7 linked regions of the Homo sapiens genome follow. The protein of the gene in region 3 purifies or fractionates together with the protein of the main gene of each other region. This does not show direct contact. Each region holds a gene or a part of one and is shown on either strand. Other genes may lie near its edges.

Evidence for each region.
Region 1: the proteins of DNAJC5B (region 3) and NUCB1 purify together in Homo sapiens (affinity purification with mass spectrometry, with the first as the bait; one large-scale study listed by BioGRID). This does not show direct contact.
Region 2: the proteins of DNAJC5B (region 3) and DNAJC7 purify together in Homo sapiens (affinity purification with mass spectrometry, with the first as the bait; one large-scale study listed by BioGRID). This does not show direct contact.
Region 4: the proteins of DNAJC5B (region 3) and LEMD3 purify together in Homo sapiens (affinity purification with mass spectrometry; one large-scale study listed by BioGRID and IntAct). This does not show direct contact.
Region 5: the proteins of DNAJC5B (region 3) and ZDHHC13 purify together in Homo sapiens (affinity purification with mass spectrometry; one large-scale study listed by BioGRID and IntAct). This does not show direct contact.
Region 6: the proteins of DNAJC5B (region 3) and IFITM1 purify together in Homo sapiens (affinity purification with mass spectrometry; one large-scale study listed by BioGRID and IntAct). This does not show direct contact.
Region 7: the proteins of DNAJC5B (region 3) and VAMP7 purify together in Homo sapiens (affinity purification with mass spectrometry; one large-scale study listed by BioGRID and IntAct). This does not show direct contact.

Annotation. Positions count from the first base shown.
Region 1 is NC_000019.10:48,906,492-48,910,690, reverse strand, and holds part of NUCB1 (nucleobindin-1 precursor), read right to left. Parts: intron 1-4,199. UniProt on the Homo sapiens protein: Major calcium-binding protein of the Golgi which may have a role in calcium homeostasis. Acts as a non-receptor guanine nucleotide exchange factor which binds to and activates alpha subunits of guanine nucleotide-binding proteins (G proteins).
Region 2 is NC_000017.11:41,986,102-41,990,300, forward strand, and holds part of DNAJC7 (dnaJ homolog subfamily C member 7), read right to left. Parts: coding exon 4,163-4,199; intron 3,457-4,162; coding exon 3,303-3,456; intron 2,796-3,302; coding exon 2,631-2,795; intron 1,810-2,630; coding exon 1,718-1,809; intron 1,594-1,717; exon of another isoform or gene 1,494-1,593; intron 1-1,493. UniProt on the Homo sapiens protein: Acts as a co-chaperone regulating the molecular chaperones HSP70 and HSP90 in folding of steroid receptors, such as the glucocorticoid receptor and the progesterone receptor.
Region 3 is NC_000008.11:66,097,891-66,102,089, reverse strand, and holds the end of DNAJC5B (dnaJ homolog subfamily C member 5B), read right to left. Parts: intron 2,154-4,199; coding exon 2,059-2,153; 3' UTR 845-2,058; downstream 1-844.
Region 4 is NC_000012.12:65,245,420-65,249,255, reverse strand, and holds the end of LEMD3 (inner nuclear membrane protein Man1), read right to left. Parts: intron 3,588-3,836; coding exon 3,482-3,587; intron 3,396-3,481; coding exon 3,317-3,395; intron 3,095-3,316; coding exon 2,931-3,094; 3' UTR 901-2,930; downstream 1-900.
Region 5 is NC_000011.10:19,161,743-19,165,941, forward strand, and holds part of ZDHHC13 (palmitoyltransferase ZDHHC13), read left to right. Parts: intron 1-1,560; coding exon 1,561-1,685; intron 1,686-2,558; coding exon 2,559-2,621; intron 2,622-3,309; coding exon 3,310-3,403; exon of another isoform or gene 3,404-3,405; intron 3,406-4,199. UniProt on the Homo sapiens protein: Palmitoyltransferase that could catalyze the addition of palmitate onto various protein substrates. Palmitoyltransferase for HTT and GAD2. May play a role in Mg(2+) transport.
Region 6 is NC_000011.10:312,009-315,911, reverse strand, and holds IFITM1 (interferon-induced transmembrane protein 1), read right to left. Parts: upstream 1,873-3,903; 5' UTR 1,742-1,872; coding exon 1,556-1,741; intron 991-1,555; coding exon 799-990; 3' UTR 640-798; downstream 1-639.
Region 7 is NC_000023.11:155,936,471-155,940,669, reverse strand, and holds part of VAMP7 (vesicle-associated membrane protein 7), read right to left. Parts: intron 970-4,199; coding exon 877-969; intron 1-876. UniProt on the Homo sapiens protein: Involved in the targeting and/or fusion of transport vesicles to their target membrane during transport of proteins from the early endosome to the lysosome. Required for heterotypic fusion of late endosomes with lysosomes and homotypic lysosomal fusion.

The sequences.
Region 1 (4,199 bases), on a different chromosome or scaffold from region 3:
TTCTTTTTTTTTTTTTTTGAGACAGGGTTTCACTCTGCAGTGGCAGGATCTCGGCTCGCTGCAACCTCCGCCTCCCAGGCTCAAGCAATCCTCCTGCCTCAGCCCCGAGTAACTGGGACTACAGGTGCATGCCACCACACTCGGCTAATTTTTGTATTTTTAGTAGAAACAGAAACAGGGTTTCACCATGTTGGCCAGGCTGGTCTTGAACTCCTGACCTCAGGTGATCCACCCACCTCGGCCTCCCAAAGTGTTGTGATTACAGGTGTGAGCCACCACGCCCAGCCTCAACCACTCTTTAAAAAAAACAAACAAGGCTGGGTGCGGTGGCTCACGCCTGTAATCCCAGCACTTTGGGAGGCCAAGGGGGGCGGATCACAAGATCAAGAGATTGAGACCATCCTGGCCAACATGGTGAAACCCCATCTCTAATAAAAACATAAAAAATTAGCTGGGCATGGTGGTGCGCACCTGTAGCCCCAGCTACTTGGGAGGCTGAGGCAGGGGAATCACTGGAACCTGGGAGGCGGAGGTTGCAGTGAGCCGAGATCACGCCACTGCACCAGCCTGGTGACAGAGTGAGACTCCGTCTGAAAAATAAATAAATAAAATAAATACATACATACAAACAAAAGAAAAACATCAAAATTTTTGATAAAGCATCAACCAATCTTAGGGGTTAAATTGCACGCTCCTAAGTTTCTATGTTGAAGTCCTAAGCCCCAGTACCTCAGAATGTGACCTGATTTGGAGACTAGGTCTTTACAGAGGGAATCAGGTTAAGATGAGGTCATTACTGTGGGCCCTAATCCAACATGATTGGTGACCTTATAAAAGGCAGAAATTTATGACTGGGCACAGTGGCTCATGCCTGTAATCCCAGCACTTTGGGAGACTGAGGTGGGAGGATCACTTGGGCTCAGGCATTCGAGACCAGCGTGGGCAACATGGTGAAACCCCATCTCTACAAAAAATATAAAAATTAGCTGTGTGCAGTGGTGTGTGCCTGTAGTCCCAGCTGCTCAGGAGGCTAAGGCAGGAGAATCACTTGAGCGTGGGAGGGGGAGGATGCAGTGAGCCGAGATCGCACCACTGCACTCTAGCCTGGAGGATAGAAGTGAAACCCTGTCTCAAAATAATAATAGGCCGGGCGCGGTGGCTCACACCTGTAATCCTAGCACTTTGGGAGGCCAAGGCGGGTGGATCACCTGAGGTCAGGAATTCGAAACCAGCCTGCCCAACATGGCAAAACTCCATCTGTACTAAAAATACAAAATTATCCAGGCGTGGTGGCGCGTGCTTGTAATCCCAGCTACTTAGGAGTCTGAGGCAGGAGAATCGCTTGAACCTGGGAGGCAGAGGTTGCAGTGAGCTGAGATCGCGCCACCGCACTCCAGCCTGGGCAACGAGAGCAAAACTCTGTCTTGGAAAAAAAAAAAAATAATAATAATAATAATTAATAAAAAATAATAATGGAAGGAGAAATTTGGGCCAGGCACACAGAGAGGAAAGATGGTGTGAAAATGCAGTGAGAAGACGGCCATCTGCAAGCCAAGGAGAGGGGCCTGGTACAGATCCTCCCTCATAGCCCCAGAAGGAACCAACCCTGCCAATACTTTCACTTTGGACTCTGACTGCAGGCCATGAGACAGTCAAGTTCTGTTGCTGAAGCACCTGGTCAGTGGTACTTGGTTACAGCGGCCTCAGCAAACAAGTGCAGCCTCCCTCATATGGGAGTTTCCAAGTAGTCAGGAAGGGGTAGGGTTTCCAGGCAGGAAAGGACAGCGCACACGCTGCCAACACACACTTACCGCACGCATGTCTCCCGAGGCTTCTAGGGGCCCAGGCCTGCGCTGTGCAATGCTGGACCCAAAATGAATCAGCCTGGCCCTGGCCTCCAGTGGCCCTTGGTTAGGTGGGGAGAAAGACACACACACACACACACACACACACACACACACACACACACCCCTTGGTCAAGTGGGCAGAAAGACACACACACACACACACACACACACACACACACACACACACACACACACGGGCAGCTAGAATTTGGGAGACCTAGGCTGCAGTGGAGGCAGCTCCGGCCCTGGCTGAGCCCAGAGGAGTGACAGGTGTGCAGGACACAGGTACAAACTGAATCTCAAATTCATTATTTGTGCCAGGGACGTGTGTTGAGCCGCTATTCCAGGCTGACCCAGCGCCGGCCGCTATGGACACAGCAGGAATCAAATGATGACAGAATTCTGACTCTTGGAGGCCAGGCGGGGTGGCTCATGCCTGTAATCTCAGCAATTTGGGAGGCTGAGGCGGGTGGATCACCTGAGGTCAGGAGTTTGAGACCAGCCTGGCCAACATGGTGAAACCCTGTCTCTACTAAAGATACAAAATTAGCCAGGTATGGTGGCGGGCACCTGTAATCCCAGATACTCAGGAGGCTGAGGCAGGAGAATCGCTTGAACCTGGGAGGCAGAGGTTGCAGTGAGCCGAGATCGCGCCACTGCACTCCAGCCTGGGCGACAGAGTGAGACTCTGTCTCAAAAACAACAACAACCAAAAGAGTTCTGCCTCTTGGAGCACCCAGTCTAGAGAGACAGAGAACAGGCGACCAAGGGATGAACAAAGGAATACCAAGGACACAAATAACACAGAGGCTCCTTCACACAGGACAGCCGGGGCGGTGACACCCTGAGGAGGTGACATTCCAGGGGAGATGGAAGGTCCATGGACCAGGCAAAGAGCCCTGAGAAAGAATGTCACGGGAGAGCGGGGCGAACGGACAAAGGTCCCAAGGCTGCACGCCAGCAATTTCTAAAAATGCTGACGCAAGAAGGTCAGGGTGCATACGGGAAGGGCAGGGTTGGGCGGGTGTGGCCAAGGTCCACCCAGGCTCCGAGCAGACAAGAGGAACATGAATGCGGGCCTGAGGGCACTGGGGTGCCGGGGGCAGGCTCTGGGCAGAGGAGGGACGGGAAGAGCCTGGGTGTTGTGGCAGCTGGATACTGGTGCCCTAAAAGATATCCACATCCTGATCCCCGGAACCTGTGAATGCGTGACCTTTCCGGGCTAAGGGGTCCTGGCGGATGGGATTACATTAAAGACCTTAAGATGGGGGCCAAGGCTGGTGGCTCAGGCCTGTAATCCCAGCACTTTGGAAGGCCGAGACAGGAGGATCACTTGAAGTCAGGAGTTCAAGACCAGCCTGGCCAACATGGCAAAATCAAGTATCTACTAAAAATACAAAATTAGCCAGGTGTGGTGGCACACACCTGTAATCCCAGCTACTTGGGAGGCTGAGGCAGGAGAATTGCTTGAACCCAGGAGGCGGAGGTTGCAGTGAGCCGAGATCGCGCCACTGTAGTGCAGCCTGGGAGACAGAGCAAGATTCTGTCTCACCAAAAAAAAAAAAAAAAAAGGCCAGGCGCGGTGGCTCACACCTGTAATCCCAGCACTTTGGGAGGCCGAGGTGGGCGGATCACGAGGTTAGAGATCAAGACCATCCTGGCTAATACAGTGAAATTCCGTCTCTACTAAAAATACAAAAAATTAGCTGGGCATGGTGGCGGGCGCCTGTAGTCCCAGCTACTTGGGAGGCTGAGGCACAAGAATGGCGTGAATCCAGGAGGCGGAGCTTGCAGTGAGCCGAGATTGCACCACTGCACTCCAGCCTGGGTGACAGAGCGAGACTCTGTCTCAAAAAAAAAAAAAGAAAGATATTAGCTGAGCAAGGAAAAACAGTGTGACCTGATAAATCTCCCGATTTTATCGCTGTACTTATGCAAGAGTATCACACTGAAATGTGTAAGGGTGATGAGATGGTGACTGTGGTGAAGTCCCAAACGTGAGTGACAAAGCAAATGGAGCAAATGTTAACTAGAGAAGCCAGGTCAGGGGTGTTTGGGAGTTTTCTGTACTACTCTTACAACTTTTCTAAAAGTTTGAAGTTCTTTCAACTTTTTTTTTTTGAGATGGGATCTTGTTCTGTCGCCCAGGCTGGAGTACAGTGGCGCAGTCATGGCTCACTATAGCCTTGACATCCCAGGCTCAACGATCCTCCCACCTCAGCTTCCTAAGGAGGTGGGACCACAGGCATGCATTACCATGCCCAGCTTATTTTTTAATATTTTTTATAGAGACAGGGGTCTTGCTATGTTGCCCAGGCTGGTTTTGAACTTCTGGGCTCGAGTGATTCTCCT
Region 2 (4,199 bases), on a different chromosome or scaffold from region 3:
CTGCTGGTAATTCCAGAACTTTGGGAGGCCAAGACAGGCAGATCACTTGTCATCAGGAGTTTGAGAACAGCCTGGCCAACATGATGAAACCCCATCTCCAATAAAAATACAAAAATTTGCTGGGTGTGGTGACATGCGCCGGTAATCTCAGCTACTTCGGAGGCTGAAGCAGGAAATTCGCTTGAACTCAGGAGGTGGAGGTTGCAGTGAGCCAGTACGGTGCTACTGCACTCCAGCCTGAGCGACATAGCGAGACTCCATCCCGAGCGACATAGCGAGACTCCATCCCAAAAAATAAAACAAAGCGATTTTTCTCTTCTCTTCCCATCCCCTGGCATTCCATATACAGAGCATTCCATTAAGTTCATACAGTATCAAGTATCTAGCCACCCCCTTCCCACTGGACATGTAGGTGATTCTCCCCCCGCCTTTTTTTTTTTTTTTTTTTGCTATTATAGATAAAATTGCAGCAAACACCTTCATGTATATAGCATTTTGCGTCTGTTAAAGTCAGTCTTTGGCTGAATCAAAGGGTGCTTTTTTTGTCTTCCAAAGCTTCTGCTTCTGTGTGCCAGTGGTTTGCAAAGATGGAATGACTGACAGTCAGTCTCACAGAAGTTATAATTCCCTGTATGTTTCTGTTGGACAGACTTAGTCATCAACTTAGAAATTCACTTTTAAAAAAAGCATCACACACAGCAGCAGTTTTCCTATTTTAAGTGAGATAATTTTGAGAAAACTAAGTGGGAGGTAGTCCATGAGATATTCTGTACCACTGATGAGACAAGGAAGCTTAAACTACTGGCTCATCAGGCATCAGTGACAGCATCTGTTCTTTGGATATGACATTTTATAATAAGGAGTGGAGCAGGTGCTGGAGGATTAGTATACAATAAATACATCTTCTCTAAGAACTTTAAAGACGGGAAGTTTTTCTCCGCCTAGAGAATAATCTGAAATCAGAAGAGATGGATTTCTGAGAAAGATTTCTCCTAGCCCTGTTCCTATCTGGAGAAAACCAGCTGGTGGGTCTAAGAGTAAGAGGAGCAACCATGCCAGGGAGCACCCTGACTCTGGGGCAAATGTGAGCATTAGAGGTAGGCACATCCTGGCTCATAATCACCCTGTCAGACACAGAGTGCCCTCCACTCAAAACACTCAAGCAGAGAGTAGCCATCCAGGGTGTTTCAAAAGGAAGTTCCTTTATCCTGGGAGGCTGAGCCGGATTACATCTCTTCCAACTCTAAGATTGTCTTCCCTCGCCCAGAACAAACAGGATGAAGTACAACTCTCAACTGTCTCCAAGAGTTGTTTTCTCTTCCAAGCACCATACATTCATTCAACAAAACATTTATTCAGTGAGCACCTATGTGTCAAGCACTGTGCCAGGGTAGAGCATAAGTGTACAACACAAAATAAAATCTCCAAAGGAAATGGATTTAAACTTTTTAACAAAAGGAATTTGGGTCAGGCATCAGAGGAAACTTACTGACCGTGAGGGGCGTTAGACACAGGCATGGGAGACTGAGGGAGCTTGTGCAATCTCCTCCGCTGGAGGTCTATAAAGATAGTCTAGGGCTGGAACAATCCCACCTAGAGGCAGGGGGAAGGACCAAATGACCTCACAACATCTCTGGGTCTGCTTCGTCATCCACAAGGCAATTCCCCTGAGGCCAGCGGCAACTCCCTCTTCCCCCTACCCATCAGAGGCACTTACCACTGAGCTCTTCTCAAGTAGGCTTTTATGTAAGTGTCATCAAGCTTCACTGCATTTGTGCAGTCTTCTATTGCATCATCTAGTTTCCTAAGCTTCAGGAGAGAGAGAGCAATCATACTTCACACCTTTGGTGACTGAGGGAGCCCAGAAGCTGTGAGCATGGCTTCAAAACTCTAAGAGGATCAGTCATGCTGGCCCCTTAAATGTCATATTAAGTTCTAGTTCTTTGTCACCAGGGCTATGGACAGCAACTTCAAAATTGATTTCTCTTGTATATGATACAAGCCAGGCACATCTGTCTTCAAGGATAAACTACCTTTACCATTCCATGTTAGTGCCCAATGAAAACATGAAAATAGTAAGGCTGGTTCCTGCCCTCCTTTTTTCCAGAGGTCACCTGCAGGGATCAGAAATCACTCTGATTTTTAACTGCTAGAATTCTGCAAGGGCAAGGAGTCTACTTTTTGTTTCTGATGTTGGGTAGGGCCACAAAAGCACTCAGGCCATTTTCAACCATGCATGGTGACCATCAATTACACTGGAGAAAAACAAGCTTGCCTCATACTCTTCCTCCAAATCACTCCTAAAAAATAAATGATCACTTGCATAAGCAAAACAACAAAAAAGCAACAGTAGGTGCTTAAGATTATCCCACAGACCCTAGCCATTCTCTTACTGGAGGAAAGGGACCTTAATGAACAGGTGAGAATATCCTTGCAAATTGTCCAACTGCCCTCAAATTCCATAGAGATGACAAAAGCTTGCCTCTTGGAAGGGAGTTCCTAACAAACTATTAACCATAACAACTTTCCCTCTTTCATCTTGCTTACCCTCACTAGGCAGATTTCCCAAGACCCTTTGATGTCCCTTAAAAATATTTCTATAGGCCCCAAGATCTAGATCAAGAGCTTACCTTGGAATTAACCGTACCCCGATTACAGTAGAGTTTAGCATTTGTTTTTATATTGTTGGGGTCTATCCCCAGGGCTTCTGTGTACAGTTCATATGCTAGTTTGTAATTTCCTTCCTTAAATGCTTTATTCCCATCTTCTTTCTTTGCTTTGAGTGCTTTGGCATTCTACAGAAAAAAGCAAGGGGAGGATCGGTTCATATCCACAAAGCCTCAGACCATTGCACAGAGAGGCCAGACTCTATTTTCAAGTTCTTTGCTTCCAGCAGTTCAGCATCACAGAGCCCCGCCAACCCCCAATCTGGGCTATCTGTTGCTCATTTGAGCTTCCTACAGAGTGGACAGGAAAAGAGTTACCAAAAATACCAATGAGACCTATGTTACTGGGTCTGCCTTCACTTCTCAGGACAAGTATTACTATCTATCTTCACTGAGGGGAAAAACAAAACAAAAAAACCCTCTTAGATATTAAAGGCATCCGACCCTATATGATCACATCTACCTTTAGGTAAATACAAGTAGTCCTGAAACCATTTCTAATAAAGACCAAGCATCCTTGCAAAGCAGGAGGAAAAGCTATCACATTCCTTGTGATTCTAAAACCTTCCACTCTAGCCATCTTAAAGGTCCCAAAAGGAAGCTCTTTCCCAGTTAGGTCTGGTGACTAGAACTTACTCTGCAGGCAATGCAGGCCTTCTCGTGGTCAGGAGCCATCCTGAGAGCCTGTACGAAAAACTGAACTGCCTTCTCAATACAATCTTCGTAATAAAGGCAAAGACCTCGTACATACAGAGCATCTGCATTGGTGGAATCCATTCGTAGAATGTCACTGCAATAGTCAGAAAAGGGCACATTGAGCTGTGCTTTAGAATGTCCCCACCATTACTACCATTTGTGGCCAGTTTTCCTCCTTGACCATGTGTCTAGCATTCAAAATATCCAAAGGTAGACAGATTCCCAAGAACTGTTCCCAAACTTTCCCCAAATAAACCACCTATAATTATCTTTAATACACATCTTGTGTCTTACAATCCTTATTAAACTAGAACAGGGTTTGGCAAACTACAGCCCACAGGGCCAAATCCTTTCTGCCACTGGTTTTTGTAAATAAAACACTATTCAAACAGCCACACCCATTGGTTCATCTATTATCTAGGGCAACCTTTGCACTGCAATGGCAGAGTTGAGTTAGTTGCAACAGAGACCCTGTGGCCTGCAAAGGCTAAAATCTGGCCCTTTGCAGAAAGTGTGCCAACCAGTGGAGTAGAAGGAAAAGGACTACCTTAAACAAACAAACAAAACCACAAAAACACAATCTGTTCTTTCATATATAGCTCAAGTACCTGCTATACTACTATACTCCTGTATACCCTACGGGTTTTCAAAGCTGGTCTAATCTTTGACTTTAAGTCCCAAGAGGGTCTGATCAGCCCTAGCTGGCCTACTCTGGGGACCATATCCTGTGGTGAAGCTGCCGGACACCATCAGTCCAATGGTATCTGGCATTTTAATGTCCAGCTAGCCTGACTGCATACCTAGCCACAGACTGTGCTTCTGGATAACGACCCAGCA
Region 3 (4,199 bases):
GGATTCTTGTATCTCTGTAGCTGAAGGAGTATTCTGCAGAATTCATTCCCTCATTCATAGGTATTCAAGTGTTTGCATTTGTCACACATCATTGTAACCAGAAACTAGCCCTTTGTGAGGAACATTGGCCAGAACCCCTCTAGCAATTTGATTCTACCATCTGATTCTGATTCTGATCCATGTCCTGTTCTCATCTTAACCACTCTTGGACCAGCTTCCTGGGGAACTAGGAGTGGAAGCAAAAAATTCCATGTGAGAAAGGAAAATGAGGTCTGGGCAAGAAAGAGAAGGTGAGCTTTGTAATTTGTAAGTTGCTTTTCAAAATAGACCTGACCTTTTGCTTAAAAAGGCCACAGGAAGGAAATGGAATGGCTCAAATTATCCACAGATTGCGCTATTTATCCTATTGTTTCCTCCAAATGGAAAGTAGCATTTGTTTGTTGAATACAGCGTTCCAAGCACTTGCTGGTTACTGGAGCTGTTAATACTGGGTGTCTCCATGGGTCTTGTTGGGTGAGAGAGTTTATATGCATCAAGAGTCATAGTACATTTGTCTGTGTGCGTCAACATATACAAATTCATTTAAAACCACCTTACATTTGTTGAACATTTGACTTTTCAGATTTCTTTCACTTCAGCCATTTTATCTGGTCATCCAGCAACTTGGAAGGTGGTCAGGGCAGATATGAAAACAGAGCCATAGAGAGATTAGCCATGTTATTTTCATCTCACTTGGTCACAAGGCTAGTTAATGAAAGCTTAGATTAGAACCAGGTTTCTTAGCTTTCAAACCAAGGCTCTGTCTACTTGATTGCCTAGAAAAAGAATTTCAGTAACTAAAGAGTTAGAGTGGAATTTTAATGACCTCAGAACTATCAGAGCTATAACACTAATTCTCACTTACAATATATATTTAGCAGCAATTAACTATAATTTTTTGGGTGGGAATAAGAAACAAGAAAAAAGATAAAGGCATTTTATACAATATTATATAAAAACATAACAAGATCTTGAAAATGCAATATTATATAAAAAAGTAAGAAAGAGCTAGAAAAACGAACACTTTTTCTGCCATAGTATTTTAGAAATAGCACATGGTTTCTACCACATAATAAATACAAGAATCAAACAAGCAAATGCAGAGATGACCTCTGGGCTTAAATTGTGTAACATGCACAGAGCTGAGCAATTTCTGGTCAAGGCAACTAATTTTAACAAAAATGAGGTGATACATGTTTTGGTGTAAATTTAGGCTCTAGAGTATAGAGTTCTACCCCTTCATCTGTTTTTTTTCCCTTAGTCTGGCTAATCTGAGCCAGTTATACAAAAATTATTTTACTAGAAAATGATCAACATGCTGATGGGGCGGGTTCAGGCTCAGAATGATTTTCTGGTTCACTTACAACATTTAACCAGGTTGAAGTTTTGTTTTGTTTTGTTTTTAAGCCAATCTAAAAGTACACACAAAACCTGTTTCTTCCTGGTTTCCAGTTTTCAGTAAATGCCAATTTTTAATGTTCCAAAAATATACCTTAAAAATGTGATTTAAAAAAAAATCATCCCTTTCTGGCTCTTGAAACATTTCTATAACTTTATTGAATATTGACACGGAAGAGGCTCCACACACAAAAACTCTTTATAAGTTCTCATATATTTTGATGATCATGTTCGTGGTAGATATGAATATTGTGTTAAATGTAAGAAAAGTGGCTTTTGTTCTGGAATATTACTTTGGTCAGTTAGGAATCAGATCTGCCACACATAAAGGGCAGGTTCATAAAGGCTGTACAATTCCACTGTCCTACATCAGGCAAGGAGGGTAAAATAACTCTTCAGGCCTTTATTCACCCAAATTGAATGTGTTTCATAAGAAATTCTACTCAGAGAGAAAGTCTGCATACTGAGAAAATTATATAGCAATCATGTTTTCCTAACCCAAAAATAAAACAACAAGATGGAAAAGTTCACAGCACTTTATGCCCCACACGCTCCCCTACGACCATCTGGAGACAAGACTGAACTGAGAGGAGGGACTGTGGACTCTCTGAGGGCTCAATATCAAGAGTCTGTGCAATAACTTCGAGATCCTTCTTTGATTAGCTGTGTTTTCTCATTTGCATTTGTAGGCTGGAGAAAAACTGGAAAGTCCACATCTAAAAATAAACAAAGCAAAGCAATAAACACTCTCATCATGTTACAGTTCTTTTAATGAAGCAAGTGATAGGTATTTTTGTTGAATTCATGACTGGCAAATCAACTCAATTCATAAGATATCAATATACCTACCATTTTAAGGACTTCGAAAGGGAGGAGGCACTGTCTTTACTCTATTCAAATTTTGTCAGTTATGGAATTATAAAACCAAAGCACCAAACCCAGCTTTCACCTGGAGGGCACTTGCTGAACCTGGTGAACTTGAACTTTAGTTTTCACCATCTTGTGGGAATACAGACAGAACCATCATATACAGTTGTGCAGATTGGAAACTGAACATTATCAAAGGGCACCTTTCATATAGACTACAACGTATATCTACAGGAAAGGTATAGTTTATATGAAAGATGCACCCTGGCATTATGTAGTGTACAATTGGATGACTGGCCCTTGTTGGGACAGGAGTCAAAACTGAGAGTTTGCTTAGAGGGAGAGTCTAATAGAAATCTCCTCACATAAAGCTAGTGCCCAAAATGGTTATGCTTTCTCTAAAATCACTAAATCTACTCCTAAATCTACAGAGAGATTTGTTAGCCTTTGATTTGGGTGCTGAGTTGAGAAAGCTGCCCCAAAAATGTTCAATGGCAAGCCAATGAATACACAAGTTGGCAGACCAAGTTTTCAATACCTCTGTGTTCTGAGAAACCTCAAGATGATAATTTAGTTTAAAGAGGTCCAGTGCAAGATGTGCTCTCAAGCACTTAGCAAAAGTGAATGACCTCACCTTCAACCTAGGCCTCAAAATATCATTATAAAATTGCAAGAAACATGAGCTCATAATAAAAACTATTAGAGGTAGAGAAATAGAAGTTGTGTGTGTGTGTGTGTGTGTGTGTGTGACAGAGAGAGAGACAGAGAATTAGAGAGAGAGAGAGAGACAGAGAGAGACAGACAGAGAGACAGAGATTACATATGGAAACAATGCATGCTAAGATCCAATATAAACAGCAGAAGGCTAAATCAGACCCAGAAAGACTTCAATAACTGCTTTTATCAGACACAGAATACAAAAGAATTATGTTTTAAAAGTAATTAAATAAATTAAGTAAAATAATAGATCATAAAAATTTTAAACAGAATTTCTGGAGATTAAAACATGGAAAAAACCTTCATGAATTGGCTTAACAGCTAAAGAAAGAATTAGTGAAGTAGAAGACAGATTGGAAGAGATTATCCAAAATTTAAGAGAGACAAAGAGAAAATATAAAAGAGGTCAAAGGACATGATGGATAGAATTATAAGGTCTAACATATCTAACATAACTTTCAGAAAGAAAAAAAAAAGAGAGACAATATTTGAAGATTTGATGGCTGAGCCTATTCTAGAATTGATGAAATACACCAATCCATAGATCCAAGAACAAGCCAGGATAAATTAAAGAGTGCAGTGGCTTACTCCTGTAATCCCAGCACTTTTGGAGGCCGAAGCAGGTGGATCATGAGGTCAGGAGATCAAGACCATCCTGGCCAACATGGTGAAACTCTGTCTCTACTGAAAATCCAAAAATTAGCTGGGCGTGGTGGCACACACCTGTGGTCCCAGTATTCAGGAGGCTGAGGCAAGGAGAATTGCTTGAACCCAGGAGGCAGAGGTTGCAATGAGCTAAGATCACGCCACTGCACTCCAGCCTGGTGACAGAGTGAGACTCTGTCTCAAAGAAAAACAAAAAAATCATATTTAAAACATCTTAGTCACATTGCAGAACAAAAGATAAAGATTTTGGGCTGGGTGCAGTGGCTCACGCCTGTAATCCCAGCACTTTGGGAGGCCGAGGCAGGCAGATCACCTGAGGTCAGGAGTTCAAAACCAGCCTGGCCAATGTGGTGAAACCCCGTCTCTACTAAAAGTACAGAAAAAGATTAGCCAGGCCTGGTGGCAGGTGCCTGTAAGCCCAGCTATTTGGGAGGCTGGGGCAGGAGAATCGCTTGAACCCAGGAGGTGGAGGTTGCAGTGAGCCAAGATTGTGCCACTGCACTCCAGCCTGG
Region 4 (3,836 bases), on a different chromosome or scaffold from region 3:
GAATACAAGGAAAATATAACAAAACCCAACATCAGCCTTCAATATTCACAAGATATTCATGAATCTACATACCAATGAGTATTCATTTTGTAATTACACAGATCACACACATTCATTTTCATGAGCTCATCACAGTAATAGAAGCTCTCCTGAGAGCTCAAGGGAAAGGGAAATTTTATCATTGTATCTATACTAATTAAGAGGTAGTAAGTGTTCAACTGAATTAAAATAGGGCTCAGCTGTTGCCTCACCTGCCCTGAGGTCTTCTCTCTATATTAAGATGCATAAGGTGCCTTTCTTTACTCCCAGAGTTCCTCTGCCTGTTTTGCTCTCACTGTACTTTCCACATTATCTTTTATCTGCTCTGTGTTCTTCCTCTAGACTGTGACCATCTTGAGGATTCGGTCATGTGTTTTTCATCTTTGTATCCCTAACACATAACAGTACTTGGCATTTGTTAGTAATCAATAAGTGTACCACATGACTGACTAGTCTTCTTTTTACTTAACATATCAAAAAGTCTAAACCAATGCTATGTAAAGTAACTAGCCTATGAACTGTTAATAGTTTATAATGCAATAGAATTCAAGTCAGAATGTTAAAAGAAAAAGAAATGCTTCCTTTTTAAGAAAGTCTTGCTGTGAAAAAGTATCTAGCAGAACTAATGCTTTGTGATGTAGCTGATTGACATTCTTGCCCCATTTTGGTTCAAATACTTGAAAGTTGGATGAAGACATTTTCATAAGGAAAAATAAAATGCTGAGGGGAAGGATAGTTAAAATTAACTTTATGGTCTTCATTCATCTTTATAAGCACAAATATTCAGGCTGTCAAACATTTAAACTAAAGACACCTATTTTCACTGGTAAAAAAATAAATACAGACACAGGGCACTTAAAATGTTTTTAAAAAGCCAAGACACATAAAAAAAAACTAATAAATTTTTAATTAGAATTTTTTCCTTTTTTTAACAGGACAAGTAACAGATTACATCAAACTTCAGAACTTCTCAAATACCTAGTTATTATACACATTCCCATCTGTCTTGCAGGGAGGGATCTTGGTCGGCTTAACAGTTTCAGGTAAAATAAGCTGCATAATAGTATATATTACAATAATAAATGTACAATGTTTACATGAAATATGTTTTAGAAGCAAGAAAAAGATGCATCTGCATCAAAGGCGACCTTTTAAAATGCCACAACTATTTTTTACATTCACTCTTGCAACAGGTTACAAGATGGGGGTCACTAAGCTCAGATAAATCACTATGATGCACATAAAATACAGGAAGACTGGTTACTTTATATATTATATATATTTATATTTTCACACGTTAGCATCTGAGACATAAACTGAGAATTTAAAATTTATTCTCTTCAGATAACAAATCATTTTTTATTCTTCATAAACAAGGTGCCCACAAAAGCACACAGGTAAGGCACAATAGGGCTTTCTGTTACAGAATAGTGTGCATCATGTTTACTTAACCAGAAAACGTGCATTATCTGTGCAAGTTCATGCTGCAAACCCAACGCATACAATAAAACAAAAAGGAAACTGAGCTTTAAATACAACCAAAATTTGTACAATTCCAGCTGTTTCACATATTCATTTGGACTGACAATTATATATCAACAGGTTATTTTTAAAAAGCCAATTGTAGATTACAAGTAAAATTTACTCAGCAACTATTTTTATCTGAAATCATAAACAGTAATAAAGTAAGTTTACTGAAACAAATTAAATACTGAGGCACAAAGCAACAGTCAATCGTGCATTTACTATATTGCAAACTTTCATGACCCAAAATTGCAAGTATAATTTGTCAAATACACATTTTGCTGCAACAATGTGCCCTGCTTTAAACTTGACATATAACAGAGGCACTAACATATCATTAAATTATAAATAGATTGGGAAAATGACTTAACCCCAATGGTACTATGTCATGGCCCTAGTATTTATAATAAATACAGCTTTTCACAAAATATTTTTCCAATATCTGCCAATTTCTTCTTTATTGCTCACATAAATTTGACTCTATTACAACTGGTATCAGAACTTTCACACAAAATCATACTCAGACATTTTTATATAAAACCTATAAAAGATATTTTAAACTTGTATCTAATACTTCCAGGTGTTTGGCTGTTTGATCTATGCAAAAGTACAGCCATATGTATATATCTCTGTGTGTGTATATATATACATCTATATATACACACACATACACACATACATATATACACACACATTAGATTATGAATAAAATGGAAAGCTTATTTTACTGCTTTAATGCAGACATCCTCATAAAACAAGACTACTTTCACCACCACCAGCATTTATACATATATACAAAGCCAGTTTAAGTACATATACATCCACTTACACATATTTGTAACCACTAAGCCCAAATTAATTTTCCCATATTCCAGCCGTAGCAAATGAATCGCTTATAAGCAACAGAAACCTAAGGTTAAATTGGGAAATCAACAGTTTTACCACATTAGCCTGTAGGAACTATGCAGGTGACTGTATACAAAAATTCACAACATTAGTTCACAAGAAATTATGGGACTACAAGAAGCCTTTTCATCATGCTTTTGTGTGGTTATCCAAACACTTCTTGGGGCAAAAATACAACCACCACATCTGAAAATGCTTAATAAAGTCAGTGTTCCTCATGCAAAACTTTAAATGTATTGGCTTAACTGAGCTCCAAAAACTGAATGAAATAATTATCCTACCTACTCAGCATTGCTGCCTCACTGCTAAATCCCTTTGGAACCTTAAGACTTCTGGAACGTTCAGAGATGTATTCATCAATAAAAATATTACATACAAAAAGCATTTAAAAAGGAAGACAAAAAGCCAAACAGGAATTTTCCTATTGTAAATAACAGTCTTAGAAATGGAAGAAAATCTTTTCAGGAACTTCCTTGAGAATTGGTTAGGCCAGTCCGAAGACGAAGATGAGACATGGAGTTCATATGTTTATTTGATGGCTTCAATGGAGTGTTGGAAGTGAGAGCCTGGGGAAAGCGATGGTGGTATCTATCTAGTCGTAAATATTTTACTGTAACCAATTTCCCTGTTGTAAGATAAAAATAATATTTTAGATCAGTAAAACTGTTTAATATTTGCAGAAAATTAACTGTGGTAAAAGACATATGAGCACAAAACATAAATAAAGTCATCTAAAATTATTACTCAAAAAAATGCTAACCTAAATTCTTTTATTTGAAATCTGGTATAGTTTAAAATTAAACTATAACTATCTTTTCAAAATGTTTGTAGTACTCAAATTTCTTACCATCAAACCAAGAGCCATGCAATGCTTTAAAAGCCTTTCCAGCATATTCTGGAGACAGACATTTAACATATACACAACCCTGTGATATTAAAAAAGAAAGAAAATAGTCTTAGTTTAATAGCAACAAATCCAAAACATGAAATTCAATACCAAAAGTTACTTTACCTCACGTGAATTTTTGTCTACTGCAATGTGAACAATGCCATCATTATCACTGCATTTTTCTAAAATTGCTTCTTGAATTGCCAAATGCCACTGATCCCCTATTTCCCTAAAAGTTAATGAAAACAAAAATCAACAACCATATTCCTACTCGGTAAAAATTCTTCACTGTCTCTTACAACATATATATATTACTAGAATTGGTATAGTTTTAAAACCACATACGATTTTAATTGGTATTAAGTAAATGCTTGTTGACTAACAGGAGGTAGATTTAAAAATTACAATTCAGAAGTCTCAGCCCTCCTCCCACTTTCCAGTAAAAGAGTGCAGAGCGCTGGCCAGGCGCGGTGGCTCA
Region 5 (4,199 bases), on a different chromosome or scaffold from region 3:
CCCATACTGAGTTTCAGAAAATCAGTTATACAAGTGCATGTTATGGTGAGCTATGACATAGCTTCTGGTCAAGTGCAAAGGAACGAGGCGCTGTGACTAAATGCTCAGTGTGGCTAGTGATGCAGCTGTCAAGAAAGCAAGTATATTCTCACATAGTATTACAAGGATTTGAGTGTCCAAGCAAAAGACAACAGCAGCTTCTCTGTCCTCTACACTGGTGTTTGCTCTGTTTTGAATTATATCCTTTTAAAAGAGAGAATGACAAATGGGAGCATGAACAGAGGAACATGACCAGGAAAATGTTATATAAGGACAGTGTTGCTGTTTATCTTGGAGGTATGATCACTGTCTTCCAATTTCAAGTGTTTGGAAGTCTATCATTTGGAAGCCAATGCACTATGTAGAATGGGCACTCAGTAAAAATGTATTGAACCAATGAGGGGATAAGCTTATGTAGGTTAGATCTAAAAGACAGCTACTGTGCAGATCTAAAGGATCTAATGAATGAAAATCAGTTGGTTGAAGTTATAGAAAGGCAAATTTTAGCTCCATATTGAGAGACTTAACTGCAAAAGTGTTACCAGCTTACTGGGAAGGCTGTGTGTCTATAAACTATAGTCCACATCTGAGTGCCTTAGATAAAGCATTCTTAAATTCAGGGAAGGGAGAGTATGATTCTCTCCAGGGAATCAGAAAAGATTGCAAGGAAGGAGGGAAAATATAAGTTAGGTTTTAATCGCAGTTAAGACTTGGATACCCTAAAAGTGTGGTTTTAGAAGAAAATGAGAGGAAGTAGGGGACATTTTAGGTCAGTGAACCACACAGGCAAGAGCACCAAAGCAAGGAGTGTCTTCAGCTTCTATGTGAGGTGATAGGGTGTAATTCACTTTACTTGGAGAGTGGTGATCCAATGATTCCCCTGCCATTTGTTTTGTAAGTTAATCAAAATAGGAGCCGAAAATTCAGTCAGCTCAGCGTGCAGGATCATTGCATTATGAAACTGAACGTATTTTTGAGAACTGAACGTATATATTTTGAGTCGTGTGTCGATCAGGATTTCATAAAGAAATTATGATGTGATTCTTTCACAAAGGATCTTGCCCTATGTACCTTTAATAGTGTCTTTCTGCAAACATGTATCTAATATATAGGGAAATACTTTTATTTGGAATCTCTGAATCAAGAGGGTTGTTTCTTTGAATGATTTTGTTAAAATGATCAAAGAATATTTTTCTAGATGCTCACAGGAGAGCCACAATTACACCATTAGAGATAAATTTATTTGGTCTTGAGTGTCACTTTTCAGGATGTTCCTCATAAGTTGCAACTATTCCTATCAAGTATTTAATATGAGCTTCAACTAATAAGGAAACATTAATTATTAGCCAAGTGGGAACAAATTCCAGTAGGATTAGAACATAGGATGGGAAGAGATTTAGGGGCAGGGACATGTGTGCATAAGGAAGGTGAGATTCTTAGGTGCCAATGATGAAATTTGCTTACATCATAATTACATTATTTTTAAAGGAAGTTTGGTGTATTCCTTAACTTGGCTTTAACATTTAGCAGGAGCCCCTTTCTATTTCAGTTTCATTTTCAGCATAGTAGCCTTTCTATACTTTTTCTATAAGACTTGGGCAACTGATCCAGGCTTCACTAAGGCTTCTGAAGAAGAAAAGAAAGTGGTGAGATTTCTTCGTTACTGATATTTTTAATAGGAGGGTTTGTAAACTTTAGAAAGTTTATATGCACATATGCAGATGTGTTGCTTTTTGTTACGGCTGCATGACATGTGGGGTGATATAGCAAAAATTAGATTTCCACTCTTACAGTTTTTTCATTTATGTATATGAAAGTTTTAACACATATTTTTATTTTCTGTTGAAATAATACCCCACCAAGACTTTTTCAGATGTGATTCCTTTTAGGAATATGATCTCCTACTTCCTTGTAATAACATTTTCATAATGGTCATTTAGCTTACATTTCCCCACTAAATAAATGGAGAGTAACTAGTCAGTGACCAGGGAGAGTCCTTCTGCTTATTGGCTGAGGAGATGCCCCTCCTCCTCCTCAAATGTGAAGTTGTCAGATGACATGGCATGTTTTCCGTTGCTCATGAATGTTTAGAAGTTGGAGAATGTTGTCTTTGTTACCTAAAGCCAGTGTTCCTGAAAGACCCAGCCCTTGGTGCTTGTAACTTTCAGTTTTGATGTATACTGGTGGGTTTTTCTTTTTTAATGTGTGTGTATATTTGCATATTTATTTTTCTCTAGCAGATCATAACTGGGAGATGATTGCCATTCACAGAGATGAGGTGATAGGTGGGAGTGGTGGGGTGGTATAATTTTTATGCATCCTAATTTATTAGCTGTTGGTTGAAAATGCAACCTTGAAGAGTCACATCATTTCAAGCACAGAATGATTTGGTGGCAAGTATTCCAAATTGCTTTTCTAACTACTTCAGTTTGGAGCGAGAACTGTGAGAATGGTGTATAACCATGCATAATACATTTTCCAATAAAATGTGGTAATAGGTCAAACTTCATGTCTTTCAGAATATCATCACCCTTGCAGAAACTGGCTCTCTGGACTTCAGAACATTTTGTACATCATGTCTTGTGAGTTTTTTCATATAATTTTTTTCCGTAGTGAAAGCAAAGTCTTGGTAACGTTGCTGATGTAAGCATTTGTCAGATCTTCATGGTATATTTATACACCTTTGTTTTTACCCATTTCTAATTTTACATTCCTGTCTGAACAGCTTTCTGTCTTGAACATATGGCAGAATGATGTTTATAATCTCTTGAAGTTGTCTCTGGTTACATCTCTCCGTGAATTATCCATTGTGTGTTTTATTTGCTTTTCTCTGTCATGAAGCATATATTAGAACTAACGTCAAATCAGAGGCTCATAATGACCTTAGAAACCACTTAGTGAAACCTCTCATTTTGCAATTGAGGAATCAAGGGAGGAAGTAAATTCTCCCAAATTATTGGTGGTGCTAAAAATGGAACTTGGGTTTCCTTCCCTTGGTTGAGTGCTTATTTTGCTCTGTGGTACTGCCTCATTTCTGCTTAGCCAGTGTGAACAGGCTCTGGAATTCAGATCCCACTTAGTGATGTCCTAATCAAAGTAGACATATGGAAGTAAATACTAATAAGGCATTCCACAGCCTCTGTGTGAATTGATGGTCTGTTTAGGATTTGTGCCAATGCCTCTGTGACCTAAAGTTAAAATTTTGCTTGTGATTTGTTACCACTTTGAGACACTGGTTTTTGCTTAGGCCTCTCTTAATTGCCCACTTAGATAAGGAAGCCATTAAGGTCACTCCACTGCCATGTATGCAACTGCTGTGTGGCTCGATATGATCAACACTGCCTGTGGACTGGACGGTGCATAGGTGAGAGATTTAATTTTTCAATTACTACTGTGAAGTTAAGCATATGTTTAGTTATGACTCACAGAAAAAGTGGAAGGGCATCCTAGGGCTCCATTTTCAATATTCTAGTATTCCAATAGCAATGGGCCCATGCATCGTTATTATGCTACAGGTAACATAATATTTGCACATGCATCATTCTGTTTGGTAGCCACAGGCCTGTGAAGTAGACAGAAAAAATATTATCTCCATATTACTTGTAAAAACGCTAGATCAGAGAAGTTAAAACACTTAACTTACAGTGACACAACTAGTAATACATAAGCCTAGGTCTCCTGATTCCAATGGGTGTTGTTCCTTCTGCCGGGTTTTGCTGCTCCAGGAGAAGGTCGGACCATGATGTAGTAGCTGAGGAGTATTTGTGTCATTAGCATTGAAATGCTCCCATCTCCAGCATTGAGAAGGCAGCGTGTGCAAGAGAAGACTTAGCTGCCTTGCCCTTCCCGCTTTCTTCCCTTCTGTAGAAGTTTCTCAGATTGTGGGTTGCCACTCTTTGCATGTCCAGTAGCAACATGTAAATTTGTTGCTGCTCCTCAGTTTCGTTTTCTGTGTTCCCCCTGATTAAGTCAATCCTTGATATTCAGAGGTGGTGCTTTTACAAACATGTTACATGGAAGGAGGAAAGATACTGGGTATGATTTGTCCAAAATCCCGCCTGGTTCCCTTACTTCTGTCACAGGATAGGACAGCCTAGCTAGAAAAGTGTTTGCTTAGTTAACTTTATTCTATTCCAGAAGTTGCACTTTTACAAACATGT
Region 6 (3,903 bases), on a different chromosome or scaffold from region 3:
TCCGACTTCGTGATGCCTCGGACTTCCCGTCACATTTCAAGACTGCGGGATCCCGGGGCCCTCGCTGGCTGCACCAGAGGGGTCTCCACCTGGCGGGACCCTCTTCCCGAGCTCCCGCGGGGCTCCCGGTCGGAAGCTGCCCTCCCAGGCCCTCGCGAGCGCCCCACCCTCGGGCCATTGGCTGCCCCCACCCCAGGGGAGCAGGGAAGATGCCGGCTGGACTGGAGGAGGCAGCTGCTAGGATCCAGCACACCTGGATCACCCAGGAGAGGCTGCAGCCCTGAGGTTCCTTCAGCTGCTACCCTAGGAACAAAGCCCCTGCCCCTCCCACAGGGCCTAAGGTGCACACATCTGCAAGACCAGCTGCCCAGCCAGCTCAGAGGCAGGTTGTCCTGGCCCAAAGGTATTCTGGACAGTGTGTCCTTACCTTGGTGTCAGAGAAATGCCCACCCCACGTTCCTGGTCCAGATGCTGCCCACAGCAGGAGGCGGAAACCAGCAGATTCTGAGCATATCCCTGCTCCCCTGAGAGCTTCACAGAGGAGGGATACGGCTGTGCAGGGGCTGAGCACTGGGCTGTCTCAGGACTAGGCCGGGACCCCTCAGCAGGGCCCCCACTCCAGATGAAGTCACAGCATCATCACAAGCACGTGCACTTTATTGAATGACACTGTAGACAGGTGTGTGGGTATAAACTGCTGTATCTAGGGGCAGGACCAAGGGGGCAGGGGCAACAGCCCCAGCGTGCAGGGCCAGCATTGCACAGTGGAGTGCAAAGGTTGCAGGCTATGGGCGGCTACTAGTAACCCCGTTTTTCCTGTATTATCTGTAACATAATATGGTAGACTGTCACAGAGCCGAATACCAGTAACAGGATGAATCCAATGGTCATGAGGATGCCCAGAATCAGGGCCCAGATGTTCAGGCACTTGGCGGTGGAGGCATAGGCCTGGGCCCCGGTCACGTCGCCAACCATCTTCCTGTCCCTAGACTGGGGGAGAGGAGATGGTGAGGGGACCAGGATCCCCCAGCTGAGAGCCGCGTGCTATGGCTCCGTCTCCTCCCCGCCCTGAGATCAGGGACCACCTCCTCCCCTTCCTCACCCGGGCTCAGACTCTCCAGGAGCCTCGGGGCTCATCCTCCTTCTGCCTTGGCCCCAGCACAGGCTGTTCTCCCCACCATGGGGTGAAGTCACCTGTGAGTTCCCTTCTCACTTTCTGGGAGAGCCTGGGTGCCAGTCTGGAAGGTGAGGGTGTAATTTCTTACTGGGCTATAGGGAGAATTGCTCTGGGCTAATGGATAGCCAGGGACAGACTCTGAGCCAGCCAGCCAGCCTCCTGGAGCCTCCTCCTAGACCTGCACTGGGCAGATTCCCCAAAGCCACACACACACACAGATCACACAGACAAAGCTACTGACGTGAGCACACACGGGGCAGAGGTGCACACAAACTCACAGTCACAGGGACACACAAGTCCCCACCCCAGGCAGCATGTGGGCAGGTGGAGCCCCAGGCTCACCGGCACCCCCTGGATTTCCGCCAGGGCCATACGCACCTTCACGGAGTAGGCGAATGCTATGAAGCCCAGACAGCACCAGTTCAAGAAGAGGGTGTTGAACAGGGACCAGACGACATGGTCGGGCACGGAGGTCTCGCTGTGGATGTTGATCACGGTGGACCTTGGAAGGATGGTGCTGGGGGGTGGCCCCAGCACAGCCACCTCATGTTCCTCCTTGTGCATCTTCTGGCTTTGGGGAAGGAAGTGTTGAGTGAAGGTTTGAGAAGTGTGGTTTTCTGCGTGGAGCGAAGGGCCGCTGTGGTGTCCGGATGCTGGGACGGTGCTCAGTGAGACCTCCTTTCCCCTGTCGTTTCAGTTTCTCAGAAGTGTGTATTTCTCTTAAGTTTCTATTTCCTGCTGTTTGTAAATTGGTGAATTAGCCAGGGACCAATGAGGTGTGGTTTAACTTCTTGAGGATCAAATTACTTTATGGCAGGGTGGGAGGAAAGGCTGAAGGCTAAGGAGAGAGGCTTCCTCATCAGAAACTCAAGTCAGGACTAGTGACTTCCTAAGTGTTGGGTTTAGGGGGCCCTGGGGATTTTACCCAGGCTTGGGTTCTGTCCACCCCAGGCCAGCAAGTACAGGACCTCACTGTCCCGGTTCAGGGCCCCTGCCAGGCCCCCACACTCCAGGCGCCAGGACAATCCCCCAAAAGCCCTCACCTCACTTGTCGCAGGCCTCTCTCCTGAAATCCTTGCTCTTTCCTCAGGCTGCAGTCCTGCTCTGTGCGGGTTTGGGGACTAAACCTCCCAGTGTCTCCTGGTGCAGGTCAGAGGCCTGGTGGCCAAAGTTTCCTGCCCCAAAGCAGCCCTCCAGGCCCAGGAACGGGGACTCTGGGGAGAACTGACTCCCCAGAGGGTAGTGTGTTGAGACACGGGGAGGATTCCAGGGCCTGTAGGGGCAGCTTCAGAGCACAGGGCACACATGTGCCACCCCCTACCTTCCGGGTCCCAGCAATTCCCATGGCTTTGGTTGGGGTGAGTGCTGGATGACCTAGGCGTTGGGTCCTAGCCATGCAGGAGAGACCTGGAGGGTTGGCAAAGCCAAGTCTGGGGCTGTCAGGCCTGGGTGCCCCTTCACAGGGACGGGGAATTGTAGACTGAGTAGCAGAAGGGAGCCCTCAGGCACAAGGATCATGAATTACAAATTGCAAATTACATAAAGGAAAAATCAGAGCCCAAAGGTGGGCCTGCAATTATTAATGTAATGTTCTTAAGTTCTCTTTCTGCTTTCGTTTCTGCCTGCTTTAAGTCTGCTGTTACTTTTCTACAGAGATAAAATCCACTGTTTGCATCCAACCATTTCTTTTTATTGTTTGTGTAAACCAATGAATTTGTATTACTATCTCATGGCTGGAGTTCTGAAGTAAAACCATACTTTTGCTTGAGTGTGTATGTGTGTATATGTGCACATACACATATTTCGTTATGTGTTTTTGGCCACAAGTTACCAAATTTAGCTTAAACTTAAAGAGTACTCATAAATTAAATAATAAGCCTAAATGCTTTTCACGTTCATGTGACTTAAGTAGAATCTTTAATAAGCTAGCTTTAAAATTACTGGTAACGTTAGAAATTGTAGCAGGACGAGCCACAGACAAAACCCTCAGACATCGAGTTGAGGAAAGAAAGGGCTTTATTTGGCCTTTATTCGGCCAGGAGCATCAGCAGACTTAACATCTCAAACACCGAGCTCCAAAACCATCAGCCCCTCCCTACCCATTGCAGCTAAAAAAAAAAAAAAAGAACTAGCCCTTGCCCTTGCTTGGAGTCCCTGCTGGGCCTCCCCAAATCGCACACCAACCCCCCCACCCTCCACCCACCCCTCAACAGGCCGCCTCCAGCCCCAGCCACATCCCAGGCCACTTAGACCAAACTATGTCTGGGTCCCGGCAAGCCAGGGGTGGATGTGGATGGAGCGTGCTCTGAGACATCGAGGACTGCCTACACAAACTCCTCACAAGGCTCTGTGACCTCCTATCAAAGGCCACACATCACTGCGGAGTGGGGTGGGGCTTGAATTTCCCGTGGAAGGTATTTTGGAAGCTTCTTTAAATCACGGGCAGTTTAGGAAGGAAGAAACTGCAGGGCACAAGAGGGAGACAGGATTCTGAGGGGCAGGCATGGAACTGAAACCACCTTTGCAAAAGTCATAACTGAGAATATGATGACAGTGAAGGAGGTCTGACCCTAACCCACTCCGCCTGGCTTCTAACCTCCAAGCTGCCCTTGCTCATCCCTGGGCTTAGCCTAAACTAATCTGGAGAGAAACAGTTTATAGATCAAGGCTGAACAAGCCCCCTTCCTACCTGAGGACCAGACTGCCTTTGCAGGACTAACAAATTA
Region 7 (4,199 bases), on a different chromosome or scaffold from region 3:
TTCGCAAAGATTGATATTGCATTTAGAGCTGTGCTCTGCATGTAATAAGTAATCAGTAAATATATTCTGAATTTAACAATTCAGCTGCACAAATCAACCTAAACTCCCAGACCAAATAATAAGTAAGAAGCTAAGCTCAGGAGCCTAAAATGTGATATTAGAAAGAGAAACCTGAGCAAGGAACCATTCAAGGCCATGACAATTACTTCCAGTATAAAATCTACAGATCTATGACTGCTCTTCTCTTTTAGATAAATCCAGCTGTCTAAGGCAGAGGACCCTCAAGCTGTGGTAGAGGAGAAGCAGGGTCAGAGTTATCTGCTTGGAGGTAACTTTGGGCTTCTGGACATGACTGGAGGATGGGGAGGAAAGGCAACTTTATCTGACCATGAACAGGGTAAAGCACCCCCCACCTGTTAGCAATAGTTTTTAAAGTTGTGGTTTAGGACCTCTTTACACACTCAAAAATTACTGAGGACTCCAAAGAGTTCTTGTTTAAGGGGGATTATAATTATCAGCATTTGCCATATTAGAAATTAAAACTTTAAAAATACATAATTAATTTAAAAATAAAAACAATAAACCCATTACATATAAACCAGAAATGTCTTTATTTAAAATAACTACATTTCTGTGAGGTCAGTTTTATAGATCTCTTCCTATTGAGAATATATAATAATTCTCAATAGGAAGGAGGGGTTTAAGTAGAGATATTTCATAGTGACTTCATAGGAAAGCCACTGCCTGGTCATGTGTTTCACTATTAAAAGACATATGTAGCTCATTTCAGAGTGTTAATCATTGAGAAATAATTCTAGTACCTAATTTCTTAGAGATTGAAAAATAAAGCCATACACTAAAAGGACAAAAACTTACAATTGATACGATGATGATGATAATAGTGAGCTTGAGGTTCTTCATACACATGGCTCGAGCAAGATTTCTGCTGGTAGTTTTGAAGGTGACAGACTAGAAAAGAGGCGAGAATTGTTTAACCCCTGGCACTGACTACATGAATGATTTGCAGTAACAACCTGAGAACATTTTACTTCCATTAATTCCATTTAAGTCCAATGACCTCTCTTTACAAGTAGAGACTGGCCATTCATACTCAATAGTTGCCAAAAGCAAGACTCTGCCAGGCCTATCATAAGCAGTATGAGCCCAATGAAAACGCTTCCCTCTTTTTTCTTCTCCACTGCAGCAATGCACATGATGTTGAGCACCAGAAGTGGTTCTTCCCGCTAGTGGAAAAGAATTTTCCTCTCTATACTTCCAATAAGAAAGGCTCTTTTAAAGCCAGCTGACTGCAAGCACATTCGCCTATTCTGCCCCGTATAATTCCGGGGCTTTGAGCCATAAAAACCTGTTTGATTTCTGTAGGAAGATATGTATTTACTTTTGTGAGGGCCAAAACCCATAGAACTTCATTCCTTCTGCTATCCATTTTCTTTTGCATCATCAATTTCTCAGTATCTACTGAACAATTCCCACCAGGACACAAGGAGTTTAAAACAAAATGGCAAACAACCAACCAACAAAACTCCCTAATAATCCAGCAATCCACTCTGGTATGGTCCCACAGATGTATGCAAATTCACCAAAAGACATATAAAAAAATGTTTTGGACAGCACTACTTTTCATACCTTAAACTGGAAACCACCCAAATGCCCATCAACTGTGCAATGCATAAATTACAGGAGAGTCATAACATGGAATACAATACAGTAATGACAATTCACAATCTACTACTACATTTATACAATTTACCACAGATGAATCTCACAAACATCATTTTGAGCAATAGAAACTTGACATAAACAGAATACCTGCTATATTTTATTATTTATCTTGAGACAGGGTCTTGCTCTGTCGCCCAAGCTGGAGTGCAGTGGCACAATTACGACTCACTGCAGCTTTGACCTCCTGGGCTCAAACGATCCTCCCACCTCAGCCTCCTGAGTAGCTGGGACTATAGGTGTGTGCCACCACTCTCGGCCCCTGCTATGTTTTATTAATCTATGTGGAGAAATCAGGACAGTGGCCACCTTTGGAGAAGAGTAGTGACTAAAAGAAGGGAGAAGGGAGCTTCTGGGGTACTGTTCGTGCTCTAGTTCTTAATCTGGGTGTTGGTTCTACATGGTATGTTTACTTTGTGAAAACACAACAAGTTGTATGCTTACAGTTGATGCACTTTATGTATATTATACTTCACATATTGGTTTTAAAAAATCCACTCCCTTAACCATAGATTCATCTCCAACCACATACTCCACAAAGTCTCTGCAGTAGAACAACTGACAGGGGCACCAGTCTTTGGGTTTCACTTCATGAAGACTGCACAGGATGCCACCTGGAGGCACATACCAAAACTGATTACATCTAGAGCTAAATATATATGTTGAATAGAATATATGCATTGACTAGAACTTTTGAGAAGAAACAGCAGTTAAAGTGAGGAGACAAAAAAAGCAATGGGGACAAACAGTCCTTAATGGAACAAAGTTAATATGGGAAACAAGATAGAATAACAGTAATAAAAAAATTTCTAATAAGTATCCTCAGATACAAGACATAATTGAACTAATTTTAAACAAAGTCATCAGAGGACATAAAAAATTAGATAACATGACAACATTCCAAAAACTATATTTTAATAAAATGGCATAATTTTTTAAAAGCAGAACATAAATGAGCAAAAGCAGCTTCTGCAGTAACAATTCAAAAAATTTGTTCTGAAAACAGCAAAATGTCTAGGTTGTAAATCATGAAAGAAGATGTAAGATACACGGAAAACTGATCAAGCAAATCCAGGATCAATTTATACGATCAACAGATATTTAACATGTGCTTATTATGTGCCTGGTACTGATTTACACACCTATTAGCAGTCACAGGAGAGAATACAGCCAAAAGAGAAGGATCAATAATCAAGGGACTAATTGAAGAAAATATCCCCCAAATAAGACAGACTTGAATCTTCAGACTAAAAGGACCTACCCACCATGTGGCAAGAATATTGAAAAAAGGAAAATGTTACACTTTTAGTAACATTTCAGACCTCCAAGCTTTTGTTTCTACTCTAATTTTATTTTTTTCTGCCTTGAAGTATAATTGGCAAATAAAAATGGTATATATTCAAGGTATACAATGTGATATTCTGATAAATGTACACATTGTGAAATTATTACCACAATCAAGCTAAGTAAAATATCCATCACCTCACATAGTTACTTTTTTGGGTATGTGGTGAGAATGCTTAAGATCTATTCTTATAGCATATTTCAAATATTCAATACATTATTATTAACTATAGTTGCCATGCTGTATGTCCGGTATCCAGAACTTATTCATCTTACAACTGTAAGTTCATACACTTTGACCAACATCTCTCCAGGTCTCCCACCCACTGTCAACCACTGTTTTACTCTCTGCTTTTATGAACTGAACATTTTTTTTAGATTCCATATATAAGTGAAATCATACAGTATTTATCTATCTGTGTCTAGTATATTTCACTTAATATAATGTCTTCTAGTTTCATCCACATTTTAGAATTTTTTTTTCTATTCTGTGAAAAATGCCATTGGAATTTCAATAGGGATTGTGTTGAATCTGTGTATTGCTTCAGGCAGTATGAACATTTTAATAATATTGATTCTTCCAATCCATAAACATAAGGTATCTTTCCATTGATTTGTGTCTTCTTGAATTTCTTTCATCAATGTTTTATAATTTTCAGTGTGCACATTATTACATCCTTGGTTAAATTTATTCCTAACTATTGTACTCTTTTTGATGCTATCATAAATGGGATTTTTAAAAAATTTCCTTTGATTCCTGTTCCAAGATGGCCAAATAGGAACAGCTCCAGTCTACAGCCCCCAGCGTGAGCAACGCACAAGACGGATGATTTCTGCATTTCCAACTGAGATACCGGCTTCATCTCACTGGGGCTTGTTGGACAGTGGGTGCAGCCCACCGAGCGTGAGCCGAAGCAGGGCGAGACATCGCCTCACCCGGGAAGCACAAGGGGTCAGGGAATTCCCTTTCCTAGCCAAGGGAAGCTGTGACAGATGGCACCTGGAAAATCGGATCACTCCCACCCTAATACTGCGCTTTTCCAACGGTCTTAGCAAACAGCACACCAGGAGATTATATCCCGCGCCTGGCTCAGAGGGTCCCACACCCACGGAGC